Regions from separate parts of the Homo sapiens genome. Here region 1 is linked to region 2. A link means that fine-mapping ties the variant in region 2 to the expression of a gene that starts in the linked region. Tissue or cell type: whole blood. Region 2 holds a variant in brackets; the other region holds the start of a gene. All regions are shown on one strand. Distances are between the middles of the regions.

What was found. PIP is the estimated chance that this variant, and not a neighbour inherited with it, causes the effect.
Region 1: COPG2 starts here. The variant in region 2 is fine-mapped to the expression of COPG2 in whole blood (TOPMed, PIP above 0.99).

Annotation. Positions count from the first base shown.
Region 1 is chr7:130,663,951-130,672,039 of GRCh38, reverse strand. It overlaps COPG2 (coat protein complex I subunit gamma 2), which reads left to right and starts at 3,292. Exons shown (of 24, transcript NM_012133.6): 1 at 3,292-3,408; 2 at 4,506-4,558; 3 at 5,111-5,191. The coding sequence starts at 3,372. It overlaps TSGA13 (testis specific 13), which reads left to right. Exons shown (of 8, transcript NM_052933.4): 7 at 252-379; 8 at 2,857-3,397. The coding sequence ends at 3,026. RefSeq lists silencers at 2,920-3,029, 3,120-3,709 and an enhancer at 3,980-4,089.
Region 2 is chr7:130,528,930-130,537,033 of GRCh38, reverse strand. All of the region lies in intron 20 of COPG2 (coat protein complex I subunit gamma 2), which reads left to right. Among named protein-coding and RNA genes, the nearest start is that of COPG2IT1, 10 kb to the left of the region's middle. The variant A/C (reference allele first, on the strand shown) is at 4,696.

The DNA.
Region 1 (8,089 bases), 140 kb before region 2:
AAGTGCCTGTAATCCCAGCTACTTGGGAGGCTGAGGCAGGAGAATCGCTTGAACCTGGGAGGCAGAGGTTGCAGTGAACCAAGATCATGCCACTGCACTCCAGCTTGGGTGACAGAACAAGACTTGTGTCTCAAAATAAATACATAAAATAAAATAAAATAAAATAAAATAAAATAAAATAAAATAAAGTGAATAGTTCCATGAATCCCCCTGCCCTAGGATCTACTAAACAAAGAACTTTCTTTGTTAAGGTTTTCCACTGACAATGATTTCAAGAGCGAAGGGAAGTATTCAAAAGTCTACGCTTTGAGGACACAGAAGAAAATGTACCCTCAGCTCACCTTTGCTCCAGTCCATGAGAGAGATATGAGGAAAGATGGTAAGCTCCTCTCTTTCAAAGCAAAGGCTTACTGGACTGAGATTTGGGCTGGAGATACAATCCATGAGGATTATAGATGTGGCAAACTGGCTTCTCTCGTGGTAGTCCTGGAGACTATTTTTCCCTATAGCATGGAAGTTAACAACAAATAGAGGCTCAAAAGGTGCAAAGCTCTGGACCCTGTTTAAATCCTCAAATTTCAAGAAAGCTCTAGCAGTGTTTACTAAGCTATATCACCCAGCACTTTAATAGTTTTTGCCATATTGATGTATTATTTGCTGTTAATTTACTTAGCATTTTTTAAAAGGATTTTTAAAAAATCTTGTCCTAATTAATACTATATCATTGATATCATGGTTTTGATGTACAAATTATATGCTTTTCTGAAACACTTATATCAAATTTATAATAATGAAATTTTAAAATGTTTATCTATGTACCACCTAGAACCACCCAGTGGTATGCATATTATACTTTGAAGAAAAAACTGCTCTAAAAGGGCCAAAGGATAAGTCTGTGTGTCTTAGAGGTACAAAAGTCTCTGGGATTGGGGTAGGGAATGGGGTAGAAGGGGCTTGGAATAAGGTTGTATGGCAGAGGGTACAATGAGAATCCTCCTCACATATTATCATTTATTTAACAGTATTTCAAGGGTTCCTACTAAGTGTCTGACACTTACCAAGCACCAACAATATCACTTTCAATATGTGAAAGAGATGAAACAGATCATAAAAGGCCTTGACAGGCTGGGCGTGTCCGTAATCCTAGCAGTTTGGGAGGCTGGGGCAGGAGGATTGCTGGAGGCCAGGGGCTTGACACTAGCCTGGGCAACATAGTGAGATCCTGTCTCTACAAAAAATAATTTAAAAAAATTTAACAGGGTGTGGCGGCATGCACCTGTAGTCTGAGCTACTTGGGGGGCTTGAGGAAGGAGGATTGCTTGAACCTAGGAGTTCAAGGTTGCAGTTAGCTGTGATTATGCCATTGCACTCCAGCCTGGGTAACAGAGTGAGACCCTGTCTGAAAAACAAACAAACAACAATAACAAGAAATCGAAAATACCACAATGCCTTAAATATTATTTAAATAAAGGTTTGGGTTTTATCCAGTAGGCAGTTTGGACCCAATGAAGAATTTCAGGGCACTGAGTACACATTTGTGTATTAGATATATATAATTGGTGGGTCCTCAGACTTCACCAGCTCATGGTTTTAAGATAAGGTCCATTTCTCCTACTGGGTTTCTCTCCTCAAACAATTCCTGAGACTCCCTAAGGTATCCTTGCCTGTCCCACAAAGCCATTGCAGTGATTGCTCAACCCGTCTGCCAGCCATCCTCAGTCCAAATAGTCCTGATACCGAAGGCCTGGGGTCATATTATACCATCCCTTAACTGGCTTCTTCAGGCTTCTCTGCTCCTGCTATACCTATCTGCCACCACATCCCATCCCATTTCCACCTACTGATGCTCTTAACTCCGTAAATACTGCACAGCTAAAAACAACCTGTGGTATTAAACAAAACTTCATAGATATACAGAAAAGCTGAAGAACAGCAGAGAATGATTGATCTTGCTTTACAAGGGGCTAGTCTTAGGGTCAGCCCCAAATCTGAACTCAGGTCCTTCTACTTCTCAGCAGGTCTCCGGGGCATTACCCACCTTGAGAACCTCTGGGCCTATTATCTACACTGTCTCTGCCTAGGTTCCCAATACCCTTGGGCCAAGGAAGAGGAAGAGGATGTTTCCTTCCCCAAAGCCTGTTTATTTTCACCCCCAGAATAAATGAGTGCAGACTTCTATTTCCTTCAAAGAAAACTCCACCTACAAAGTATGACTTGACCTTTACAAGCCATATAAAGCAAACATAGTAGTTAATAGTACATTTAGTCAAGTCGGAGTTAAATCTTAAATGATACCATATGTAGGATATCAACAGTTCATCTTAAATCTGTATTTCAGGGAAAGAATTTCTCTAGGATGTAGAATGTAATCTAGGTTAGAATTTCTCTAATTTTGCAGGGGCACGATCCTGTTGAGTATAGACCCAATTTACATTTCTAAACAAGTTATGCCAGTGAAGCCAAAGGCAGACAAAGTTTCTTAGCTACACTCTTAGACAAGAGAACAGAAAGCCAGCATACACTCTGAGAAAAAGAGGAACATGAGTTAGGAATGAATGCACGTTAATTTAGTGAGTTTCTTAAGTGTCAATATGGTTTCAGATGGAATCATTGAAAGAAATAGGCTTGAACAAGGAAGACTCTAAACTGGCAATGAATTTTCCACTGGGTTTTGATGAAATGAAGGAATCCAAAAATTATAAAATAGGTTGGGAATGGTATTACACGGTCCAAAATCTACCCTCTAAAGACCAGCCTCTGGTCCCTCCAAGTGCGTCTCCTTTACATCTCACATTAAGTATCCTTCGAGTACTTCTGAAAAGCCACATTCACCAGGGTGCCTGTGCTTTGTCGTAGCTTCCAAGAAGTCAGCGAGTGAAAGGCCAATTTCCAAAGTGATTCGGGAACCACTGACACTCGCATCGCTCTTGGAAGACATGCCCACCAGAACCGCGCCCGGGGAGAGCGCCTTCCGCAACGGGAGGGCCCCGCAGTGGATTATCAAAAAGGCCACGGTCATCGGGTGAACACAGACCCCTCAGTCCTCCCGCCTCGCTCTCTTGAGACTGAGGGGTCCGCAGAAGTCGCCACCCAAATAAAACCACATTCCTGCTGCTGCGGGCGTGGGCTCCCGGGTCGCAAGCCGGGAGGGTCGAGCCGAAGTCTCCGGCGGGCCGCAAGAGGAGAAGGGGGCGTGGCTGCGTCCCGGGGGCCGAGGGCGGCCGGGGAGGGCGGGCCTTGGCCCCGAGTGAAGGCGCGGCGGCCCAACCGGCGTGAGAGCGCGGGGCCGGCCTTCCTGCAGCCTCTTCCGCTCGCCGGCTGCGGCGCCTGGGACGGTTGCGGTGGGTCTGGGCGCTGGGAAGTCGTCCAAGATGATTAAAAAATTCGACAAGAAGGACGAGGAGTCTGGTACGCGCGGGGCTTCCGAGGCCCACCCTCAGCCGCGGGACGCCCCTTCCCCCGCCCGCCGCCACCTGCTTTCAGGCCGGCGGGGCTGGGGGCGTGGGCGCCGCCGTGCCAGGGGGCCGGAGCTGGAGCCGGCCCCTCCCCTCCCCTCGCGGCTGCCCGGGGCCTGCCCGTAGCCCCTCCCCCGGGCGCCGGAGCCTCCCTTCGGGCCGCGCGCTCCCGCCCCGGCGCCCGCGCGCGCCCCGTTCCCGCCCCTCTTGCGGCGCAGCCCCTCCGAGCCGCCTCCTCCCCTGCGCGCGGGCCTCCGGCGGGGGCCGAGGGCGTGCGCGCGTCTCCGCGTCCAGGGGTGCTGGTAGGGTCGGACCCCTAGTGGGAGCACCCTGTTCCCGGGGCTGGGGTCGACGGCACAGGGTGTGTGTGGAGGAACGTTCAGGTGCCTGGTACCTTATCGTTTTCCTGGGGTCACCGGCTCTGTCCAGGTCCCCGGGGGCAAGACTGTCCCGTGGGACACAGCTCGTTGAATGCTCAGGTGTCCAGAAGTGACCTGCGTCTTGATGCCCGTCTTTGGTCCAGAGCAAATGGGGAAGATGCCAAGCATCCTCAAAAAGAAAAAAATTCTCAGTGTTTGGTAGCATCTCCCACAGTGTGAGAGGGGGTTGGGTTAGTCAACCTCCATGGCCTCTTGCACCTTTACGCCTGCATGATTCTCTGGGAAACTTCGTTTCTGCCTCTCCTTAAGTGTTAGAAACACATAAAATACTGCTTACCTAAGGAAATCAAAAGCACCCTACTACAATCTCATTAATCTTCGTTGTTGTGGAAATGACACATTTTTAACATTCATGGAAAAAGAGGGCAGGGAAAGAAGACACTCATTTTGGAGAGGGTTGCTGCGAAAGAGAAGTCTCAGCTCTTCGAGTATGGCAGTGACAGAGCCGGGATCAAAATGATTTCATTCAGTTCGTATGCGTATTAGCCATGATTATCACTGTGCCATCCAAGTGTTCACTTCCCAAGCATTCAGTACCCTTCTCTGGAAAGTATATAAGTTTGTGTAGAACAGCTGTTCAGGACATTTTTTTGTTTTGTTTTATAAATAGGTAGTGGCTCCAATCCTTTCCAGCATCTGGAGAAGAGTGCTGTTTTACAGGAGGTATGACTGGGAAGTATCTTGTGCCCTTTCTTTTCTATTCTGTTTTAGAGTGGTGGGCAGAGAATCCCTGGGCTGCTGTGATCACGACATGCAAAACAAGAAACGTAACAGAGTTTAGGGAATATAGATTTGAGGGAAAAGAAAGAGGGGTTACTTGTCACAGGAGAATTTGGAGCTTATAGAAATGCAAAGACATGAAGACTGTCACAGGTTGGGAATTTTAAATGTAAGAACAGGTGTTTAGTGCAAGGTTATTGAAATCAGTTATCTGTATTAATCTCATTGTATTAGTATGATATAGATAAGTATTGTGATCCTTATTTAACTGGTATAGCCCATAAAGTTGAAGTAGTCAACCTAAGGGAATGAGAAAGTATAGGATGGAAAATCAAGGCCACGTGTAATAATTTATCAGATACCTTAGTAAATTGAGAACTATAGACAATGTTCTTTGGATACCGTGATTAAAAATAGTCTGTATTAAAGTTGATTTGCTATAATCTGTGATAGAAAAGGTAGAAAAGTAGCAATGTTTTTTATGTTTTTTCATAGGCTCGTATATTCAATGAAACTCCAATCAATCCAAGAAGATGTTTGCATATTCTTACAAAGATTCTTTACTTACTGAACCAGGTATATTATTTTTATTTTCCTCAGATAAGTGTGTCCTGGAATAGAAATACTGAAGATTCAGTGAAATACTTTCTGGAAAGTATATTTATTTATTTTAAATTCACTTAATTTTAACATATACAACGTTTGGTTAACAAAATAATATGTAAAACTTGAGTACGAGGACTATGACATATACAGGTTGAGTATACCTTCTTTGCAATGCTCGGAACCAGAAGTGTTTTGGATTTCAGATTTTTTTGGATTTTGGAATATTTGCAGAATACATACTCACTGACTATTGCTAATCTGAGTATCTGAAATCCAGAATGCTCTGATGAGTGTCTCCACTGAGTGTTATATTGGCACTCAAAAAATTTCTGATTTTGGAGCATTTCAGATTTTGGATTTTGAGATTAGAGATGTTTAACCTATACTTCCTTTTTATTCATGAGATCCTAAACCAGTGATGCGCATAGTAGATTCTCAATAAATCCTTTGGTTTCAATTTAATGAGTACTAGTTAGAGCATGTTGTTTACATGTATTTGGAGATCTTCATGTTTTTCTGAAAATACAGTGCAAGATCAGGCAAATTCCAGATATTTTCTTTTTTATGTGTGTAATGATGTTTTAAAGCTTTGATTGTTAATATTCAGATTTTATATTTATTATCCCTATGCTACCATTACTAGCAGAATAATTCTGGGCAGTAGCTTAACCATTTTATGTGCCTTGATGTCCTTTTCTCTACATGGGGATTATGATAATACCTGTTACAGAGTTGTAATGACTAAATGAGATAATTAGTGTAAAGCACTGAGAATAGTCCTGAACATACAGTAAGCATTCAGGAATAGTTTTCCTTCCGTCATTCAGCAAATATTTATTGCGTAGCTGCTGTGTGCTGTGCACTGTTTTAGGTGTTGGGGATATAGCAGACAAACCAGCAAAAATATTTGCGCTCATGAAATGTAGATTCTGCTTGCTGCTGTTGTTATTAATTTTTCTTTTCTTTTTCTTTTTTTTTTTTTTGCCCCAGACTTAAAAAAAACTCATGAAATGTCTAGGGCCTTAGAAAATATGATTTTGTTTCATGGATTCATATTCCCTCAGTATCAGTGGGGAATTGGTTCCAGGACCTCCATTGGATACTAAAGTCCATAGATGCTCAAGTCCCTCATACAAATGGTGTAGTATTTGCATATAACCTACACATATCCTCCCATATATAAGTTGTCTCTGTGATTATAATACTTAGACTATAATCTCTAGATTACAATACCTGGTGCAATGTTAGTGCTGTGTAAATAGTTGTTGTGCTGTATTGTTTAGGGAATAATGACAAAAAACCATCTGTACGTGTTCAGTACAAACATAGTTTTTTTTTTCCTTGAATATTTTCAATCTGAGCCTGGTTGAATCCACAGATTCAGAACTCATGGTTATGGAGGGCTGACTATATATGTCTATACACATACAGACGGACACATAAAACATACATATATACCATATACCTCAGGTGGTTTACATATGGTGCTAAGATAACCATGGTTTCCAATTTGAATTCTAAGAGAATATATTATCTTTACTTTGTTTTGTGACTGAAGACCTCACTCAGAGATTTAATAAAGTTTTCTTGTTTACAAATGAAGACTAAGCAACAAGCACATAGATTTTTTTTATTTTTTGAGATGGAGTCTCGCTCTGTTACCAGGCTGGAGTGCAGTGGCGCAATCTCGGCTCACTACAACCTCCACCTCCCTGGTTCAAGCAATTCTCCTACTTTAGCCTCCTGAGTAGCTGGGATTACAGGCATGCACCACCACGCCTGGCTAATTTTTATATTTTTAGTAGAGACGGGGTTTCACCATATTGGCCAGGTGGGTCTCAAACTCCTGACCTTAGGTGATCCGCCCACCTCAGCTTCCCAAAGTCCTGGGATTACAGGTGTGAGCTACTGTGCCTGATCATCAAACACATAGTTTTAAATAAAATATATCTGTTCACAAACAACATAATCCCTCTGTGTCAGCATATGAGAAACATTTAAAGCATAGTCAATTGGGTTTAACTTTTCATAGCACACATTGTGTCTAAGTTGGCCAAATCCATTGTATAAACAAAAGTTTTGAATAGTCAAAGTTGATTGAGAGTAACATGTATTTTTATGTTGGTCATTACCTCTTCAATGAGGCAACTCATGTTGAAACATTTAATTATCTTGATAAGGAAATTACCAAGCACAGCATAAACACAATTAACTATATAAACAGGTTTGGGAACATAAATTTTATCTCTTTGCCTAGAACTTGGTAGAGCTTTATAGAAAGATACTTTTGAATTTCTATGAGAGTTGACATATCCATGTGTTTTCTGAGTTTCAAGTAAAAAAGTAGGATGTAAGGTTTTCCTGTATAACTAAAAAGCACACAGACTTCTGGGTATTCAGTAAATAGTTGTGAAAGAAAGATAAATCTCATGCTGATGAGCAGGCTGGATACACTGATTTAAGTAAGTATAAACTTATTGTACTTTGTCTTTTATCCTAAACTGTCAGTATTTTTCACCAAAATTTATTCTTATACCTATGGCAAATAGATTGAAGACTAGTTATATTTTATGTGGAATCTGAAGCTCTGAAAAGTGATTGAGTGTAACGTATTATATAAGATTGCTTTTAGTGAAGACATTAAATATTGAAATGGTAATATTTGAGGTAATCTATGATTTGAGATGTTTTGAAATACGTTATCTAACACTTTTTCACTGCTCAGAAAATGTAGTTCCCAGATCAGCATTTGCATCACTTGTTAGAAATGCCAAATCTCAGGCCAGGCGCAGTGGCTCAAGCCTGTAATCCCAGCACTTTGGGAGGCCGAGGCAGGTGGATCACGAGGTCAGGAGTTCAAGACCAGCC
Region 2 (8,104 bases):
TGCTCCTCCTGGGTGCTCCTGTCAGTCCCACCCTCCTCCCACCTCCTCCCTCCTCCTTAAGGCCCATGTCTTCAAGACGCTCTCCTTCCACACTGTCTCCATTTCCCTTTGCACCTTCCCTCCCCGTGACAACAGATCCCCTGCTCTCTGCTCTCACCCGCACAGCCCACTTCCTCTGTGTCACTGGGCCCCTATCTTGGCCTCACTCCTCCACCTGAGTCCTCGAGTCTCGGACCGAGGCGCTGGAAATCCCAGCTCCACCACCATGGTCCCGGTGCCTTTTCGGCTACATCCATTTGCTCGCTGTCATCCTTGTCCTGGTCTGTCGGGAACTGTGTTCCCACACCTGACAGTCTTGACCCTGATGCCTCCATCAGCCCCGCTGCACGTGCATCTTCCCCTCACATTGTACATGTCTGTCCGGCTCTCCATCCTCCCGCGTCCACCAGTGATTCTCACCCGAGGATGCAGGACCCCGAGGAAGCCTATCAGAAGCATCTTTTGGGCTGGGTTTCTTCTTTTGCTGTTATCTGTGTTCCTTTTAGAGATTGTTTTTTTCCCTTACTTTTTCTGAGCTGAACACTGCTCACCCCTCTGATGATTGGATAGGCCTGCCTGGGGGTCCATGTCCCCAGCCCTCCCTCGGGTGAAACCCACCCCTCAACCCCAGATAAGAATCACTGCTGTGGACGGCCACCTTGACTCCCTGGCCTTTACTCTCCTATTTCTAGCATTTAGTATTTTGGTATTTCCAGGTACACTTCCTACTCATAAGACCAGCATTTCCCTCCCCCTGCCCAACAGTCCTGGCACTCTCCACTTGGAACCACCTCATTGTCTGCCCCATTTACCCCTTAACACACATCGTGCCCAAAAGCCCAGTCTGCATGAGAGAGTTGCGCTTCTGACACCTCCACACCCCACCCTTTATGCCCTGACCCATCTAATATGACTCCCAGGCACTCAGTTAATACCTTTGGCCTCAATCTAATTTTCGTAGGCCCTTACTACTGACATTTTTCCTTCATCATCCCTCCTCTTTTCATATCACTGACCAGGTGCCCCCAGAGAGACTTCCCATTTGGTGGTCATCATCCTGTTTGTTTCCCAGAAACCAGCCCTTTACCTTAACCTTTTACCCTTCCTGAGCTACTCTGTTTTTTCTTCTTTTGCCGGACTCAGATGTCTTCTCTAGCCTGTATTCATCAACCTCAACACTCAACATGTAATTGTCCACCAGCTCAGATGAATGAGATGGTGTTCTCAATGCCTACAGCTTGGCCCACTTCACCCCACCCCAACCCCTCCCCCAGTCCCAGTCCCACTGCCCCTAACCCTGCCCCACCCATTCATCCCATACCCAAACCCCACCCCAAACCCCATCCCCTCCACCCAGCCCACCCTTCCCTGCCGGATCCGTAGTAAAGAGCCTGGCCCAAGATTCACACCTGTGCAACAAAGTTCAAGGCTTTAAGAGCAGCCATTCCTTCCTGCCCATTGCTGTCCACCCCTTTCACACTTTCCCTTCCCCATGCCGAACCTTGCAGGCTGCCCTGAGCACTCCACATTCCTTGGTTCCTACTCTGGGACCTCCCCCTTCACCTCGCTTCACCTGTGGCTGTCCTGCTTATGGCTGTCCTGCCCAGCTCCCTTCCACCACGCTTTCTGCCCTCCATCCTTCCCTGGAGGCCCCTCCACCCTGTCTGTCTTCTGTAGGTGACTCCCCTGTCGGCGCTGCCTCATTGTCCCACTTCCACATTCTTTCTTGAAGCCTTTCCCCTTGCATCCACATTTCTTCTCTTTGCTTCCTTGGCCAAGGGAAGGTACCTGCCTGTCTGTGGCCAATATTTCTCTCAGCCACCCAGGGCCTGTCGCTTCATCTGACTCAGTCATCTCTTCTCCATAGGGATGTGCTCACTACTTTGACCTGCTCTCCTCACCGCTCAAACTTTTCCATCCTCTCTCTATCCCACCTTCTTTTCAAGAACTGTTTTCTATTGCTCCTCCGGATCTTCCACTGATTCAGGCCAGCGCCTTCCCTTACGGCTGCCTTTTCCTTCCCCTCTTCCACTCCAGCCTTGTTTCCTCTTTTCTCTTTCTGTTCCATGAAGTGAGTTCCTACAAAACTCTATAGCCAGTCCCGCTACTTCCTCCTCTTCCTCCTTTCTTCATCTCCATTATTTCCATTTACCTTGGATAGGGCCCCAGTGAGCCCATGCACCCCTGCCCATATTGCTTGCTATTGTGGCTGTCCAGATCCACCGTTTCCTCTTTCCCTCTTGGCCACACTACCTTTACTACACCTGTGTTTAGGATTTAAGACCTTCTTACACAGGTTCTGGCCTCCGTCCTGTTCTACCTTTCCTCCACTCTTGCCTCCAAGAAAGAATTACCCTTGCCTCTACCCATCTCTGCCACCCTGACTACCACTGGATTTACTCTGTATTGCTGCATCCCCATTTGCTACCGACCTACTTTTCCCACTAATCCTATGATGCTCCACTAGGTATGAAGCCTGTGCCCCCCACCCCCATTGGAGCCTCATGACATCTGTGGATATTTTGCTTCGAAAGCTGCACCTCCATATCTTTCTCCCACTCTTGGATAGCAAAACCAAGGATTAAGTGATTACTGCAAATTGTCTTCTGTGCATTGCTTAGCAGTCCCTCCTCTGCCATTTTATAAGCATCTTTCTCCCCACATGCTGGACTCAAACGATATGAGTCCATCACCAAGTCCCTGAGTTCCCTGCCGGTGGTTTCTGTGGAGGTGCTGTCTTCATGTGCAGTGATTCCTGATGCCCTCTCTGTAACCCCAGTTACTTTGGCCCTTTCCCCCATTTTCTCCTAAGGGCCTCAATTTGCAAAAATGCCCAGGCTCTTGCTTCTTCGATCTGCTCTGCTCTTATGATCTGGCTTTAATACTGCTTATTTCAACAATTTGCACCATGAGGTCTGGCGCACCCCCATTTTGGGAATTCTTTGTTCCATCTTCCTGTTTTCCATGTTGGTTCCTCTATCAAAGCTCAACTCTGCTCCACCCCCCCCACCCCACCCCAATAAATTCATGAGGTTATTTCTCCTCTTACGCCCCTCCTGTCCCTTTCTTTTTCCATCAACATCACTGACCCATCTCACGACCCACATAGTGCCTTCTGACTCCAGACTGGATAAAGTGTGGACCCTTTCACCAGCCATCCTCTGCCTTTTCTTACACTGTTGTCTTTATGAAACCCTCTGATTGGTCTTCAGCATCTAGTCCATGTTCCCTACCACCTCAGGGTCAGTCAGTGCACTCAGGAGTCTTTTCCTTAATGTCTGCTCCCAGCCTGACCTGCCCTCACTGTTGTTGCCACTGCCAGCTTCTTTGTCCCTAACATGCTGTATTCATTCATCTACTGTCTGATTTGAGCTCTGATCATTCTACCTTCTCCGTTCTGCCACTAGGGAGACACTGGTTTCCTCTCTAGATGGCATCCCCCCGACCTTCCTTCCTCTCACCTTCTCCCTCACTGATACATTGTCCCAACATTTCTGAGGTGCCAAACCGCTGCACCCTCCTTCCACTTTGGTCTCCTCCCACCTCTCCCTCATTCTTTGCTTGTCTTACCTGTACCATGATTTCTCCTCCATGGGCTTCTTCATAGACTTTGTAAAGTCTCTGGATTCCCCATGTCTCTCCCTCCTTATTGGTCCTTGGCATAGGACCTCCCACCCCCACCCTTGTGCCCCAACCCCTACACCTTAGAGCTTCAGGCTGTCTCTTTCTCCTTGTGAATATTTTGCTTCACAAGCTACACCTCCATTCATTTCTGCCATTCCTGAACAGCAAAACCAAGGATTTTGATGCAAATTCTCCCTTGCTGGAACATATTCCCTGATCCTCTCAACAAGCTCACCTCTCTAAGCTGCTCGGCTCCATAACCTGCTCCAACTCATTCTTCTTGCCCATTGGGAAACACCTCTCCTCTGTCCTGCTTTTCCACGTGCTGCAAACTCACCCTCTGCTCTCCAAGCTCCCAGCTCCTGGGCCTAGGTTGGTCATTTCTCCTGCTTTCCTCCTCTACTGCATAGCATGGTACTGTCCCACCTGCACCATCCTGCATTCTCTCAGCACGATCTGTGATTCTGCCACTGGCCTAATTCATGTTCTCAGGTGTGTCCTCCTTTCTTGACCAGGCCCCGCACCCACTGCTCCACCAGATGCAGTCATCTCTGCGTCACACGTACTGCACCGAATCCACCTCCTCTGCTGTCCATGCTCACGATCCAGTGGCCAAGGCTATGGGACTTTTCCAGCACACCACAACCCTGACTCCCAGAAGCCTTCCCGATACCTTTCACACCCTTCTCTCTCACACCATGTGGAAACATTCTGGGGAGCCTCTGCCTCTGAATCCCCTGCCTTCTTCCTGTCACCACAGCAGTTTTGTCATCAGCACTCACTCTTATCTCCCCCCACCCTCCTCCTCACATCCACACAAATGCACCCAGTCTCAACCTGACTCTCCTGCCCTGCCTGAGACCCGGCTCCTCCGCTCCACCTGGGTGCTCCTGTCAGTCCCACCCTCCTCCTGCCTCCTCCCTCCTTAGCGCCCATATCTTCAAGACGCTCTCCTTCCACGCTGTCTCCATTCCCCTTTGCGCCTTCCCTCCCCATGACAACAGATCCCCTGCTGTCTGCTCTCACCCGCAC[A/C]GCCCACATCCTCTGTGTCACTGGACCCTTCTCTGGGCCTCACTCCTCCACCTGAGTCCTCCAGTCTGGGACCGAGGCGTTGGAAACCCCAGCTGCACCACCGTGGTCCCATTGCCTTTGCAGCTACATCCATTTGTTTGCTGTCATCCTTGTCCTGGTCTGTCGGGAACTATGTTCCCACACCTGACAGTCTTGACCCTGATGCCTCCATCAACCCTGCTGCACGTGCGTCTTCCCCTCTCACTCTACATGTCTGCCCGGCTCTCCATCCTCCCGTGTCCACCAGTGATTCTCACCCGAGGATGCAGGACCCCAAGGCGGCCTATCAGAGGCATCTTTTGGGCTCGGTTTTCTCTTTCGCTATTGTCTGCGTTCATTTTAGAGATTGATTTTTTCCCTTACTTTTTCTGAGCTGAACACTGCTTACCCCTCAGATGATTGGATAGGCCTGCCTGGGGGTCCGTGCCCCCAGCCCTCCCTCGGGTGAAACCCACCCCCCCATCCCAGATAAGAATCACTGCTGTGGACGGCCACCTTGACTCCCTGCGACCACCTTGGTTCCCTGCACTTCAGTCTCTCCAGTTTCAGGCCTGGAGCATTCTAGTGCTTTCCTTTAACTTCTTAATCAAATATCTCAGCATTTCCTCCTCTGCCCCTCTCAAATAGGCCTGGCACTCTCCACGTGGAACTACCGCATTCCCTTCCTTATTTTCTCTCTGAAATACAACATAGGTGGAATCCCACTCTTTGTGAGAGTTGTTCTTTCAGTGCCTCCCACCCCACCCTTTGTGCCCCTCCCTGCCACCTGATAGGACTCTCAGGTACTCTGTCCTTACCTTTGGCCTCCACCTGTTCTTCTGGGTGTTGACTATTGTCCCTTTTCCTTAATCACCACTTTTGTGGTAAGGTGCCCCCCTCTAAGAGACTTCCCTTTTGATCCACATAATCCTTTTTGTTTGTAAGAATCCAGCCCCTTACCTTGACCTTGCACCCTACGTGAGGCTACTTTCTTTTTTCCCTGGATTCAGGGTCTTCCCTAGCCTGAATTCATCACCCTCAACCCTGAACATATATAATCTATCAGTTAAATACAGTGGTGTTCTCAATGCTGGGGGCTTGGCTCAACATACCCCACTCCCCACCCCCCACCCACCCTGATTCCCTCTCCCCATGCCCTGCCCCACTCCCACCATTCCCAACCCTGCCCTCCCATGCAACCCCCACCCAAACCCCATCCCCAACCCAGACCCAAACCCCACCCCGAACCCCATCCCCACCACCCACCCTTCCCCACCGGATCCGTAGTAAAGAGCCTGGCCCAAGATTCACACCTTTGCAACAAAGTTCAAGGCTTTAAAAACAGCCATTCCTTCCTGTCTATTGCTGTCCACCCCTTTTACACTTTCCGTTCCCTATGCCGAACCTTGCAGGCTGCTCTGAGCACTCCAAATTCCTTTGTTCCTACTCTGGGACCTGCCCCTTCACCTCACTCCACCTGTGGCTGTCCTGCCCAGCTCCCTTCCACCACTCTTTCTGCCCTCCATCCTTCCCTGGGGGCCCCTCCACCCTGTCTGTCTTCTGTAGGTGACTCCCCTGTTGCACTGCCTCATCGTCCCACTTCCACATTCTTTCTTGAAGCCTTTCCCCTTGCGTCCACATTTCTTCTCCTTGCTTCCTTGGCCAGGGGAAGGTACCTGCCTGTCTGTGGCCCATATTTCTCTCAACCACCCAGGGCCTATTGCTTCATCGGGCTCAGTCATCTCTTCTCCATAGGGATGTGCTCACTACTTTGACCTGCTCTCACTGCTCAAACTTTTCCATCCTCTCTCTATCCCACCTTCTCTTCAAGAACTGTTTTCTGTTGCTCCTCCAGATCTTCCACTGATTCAGGCTAGCGCCTTCCCTTAGGCTGCCTTTTCCTTCCCTTCTTCCACTCAAGCCTTTTCTCCTCTTCTTTCTTTCTGTTCCATCAAGAAGGCTCCCACAAAACTCCACAGCCAGTCCCGCCACTTCCTTCTCTTCCTCATTTCCTCACCTCCTTTATTTCCATTTACCTCAGATGCAGCCCCAGTGAGCCGATGCACCCCTGCCATCGTGCCTGCCCATCTGCTCCCCATCAAGCCCATCTGGATCCATTTCCTCTTAGCCACACTACCCTCACTACACCCATGTTTACAGTTTAAGACTTCTTCTTACACAGGTCTTGCCCTCCATCCTGTTCTACCTTTCCTCCTCTCTTGCTCTCTACCTTGCGTCTTCCAAACATGAAGCCCTCATCCCAGCACCCGACACCCTGACCCTCTCCAAACTCTGGGCATACTCTCTCCCACTGGGCCCATTTGCTACTGACCTAAACATCTCCCACTTAACTTTTGAAGGCCCTCCTCCTCAGCTTCACTATGAACCTCTGCGTATATTTTGCATTACAAGCTATACCTCCATCCTTTCAGCCACCCTTAAACAGCAGAAACGTGGATTCAGTGATTGTTGCAAATTGTCTCCATCGCATTATGTCCTAACAGCTCCTCTGGCCTTTGCAAACACACTTCTACCTACAATCTGGGATCAGTCTGCTTGAGTCCACTGTGAAGTCCCTAAAGTTACCTGTCTGTGGTTTTTATGCAGGTGCCATGTTAGTGTGCAGTGCTGACCAGCTTCCTTTGTTTAACCAATCACTTTGGCCCTTAACCCACTTTCTCCTAAAGGCTGCTGGAGCTATTGCTTCATTCTGCCTCTGTGGTCTGGTCTTAATACCAGGCATACCACCAACGTATCCTGAGATCTGCGGACACCTCAGTTTGGGACTCTGAATTCTGCCTCCCCTCTATTCACTTGGCCCCTTTACCAATGTTGAGACCCTCAAATTCATGAGATTCTCCCCCTATCATGCACCTTCTGTCCTTTTTTATGTCCATCAACTTCCTGGACCCATCTTGAGTCTGACATCATGCCTTGAGGACTTTAGAGCAGTTTCTGTTTTTCTAGTTAAGATGTACTGCACATCCCCCTACTGTTATTTTCCAGAGACCCTCAGCTTCATCTTCAGCATCCACTCCCTCCTCTGCCACTTTCTAAGTCAATGACTGCACTCTGCAGTCATTTCCTTGATGTCAGCTCCCTTCCTGCCCTGCCCTTGCTGCTGCCAACATTGCCATCCTTTTTATCCACAATATGCAGCATTGGATCCATCTGCTATCTTAAGGCACCCTTAACCGTCCTACATTTTTGGTTCTACTATGCTGGAGACAATTGTTTCCTGTCTCAAAGTCAATCCACCTGACATTTCATCAGTTCCCATGCCCTTCATTGACACTGTGGTGCCCAGCTTTTCCAAGGTGCCAGCATCTTCTACATCCTCCTTGTCTATTGCCATCCTCCCTCCTGTCCTTCATTCCTTGCTTATCTTACC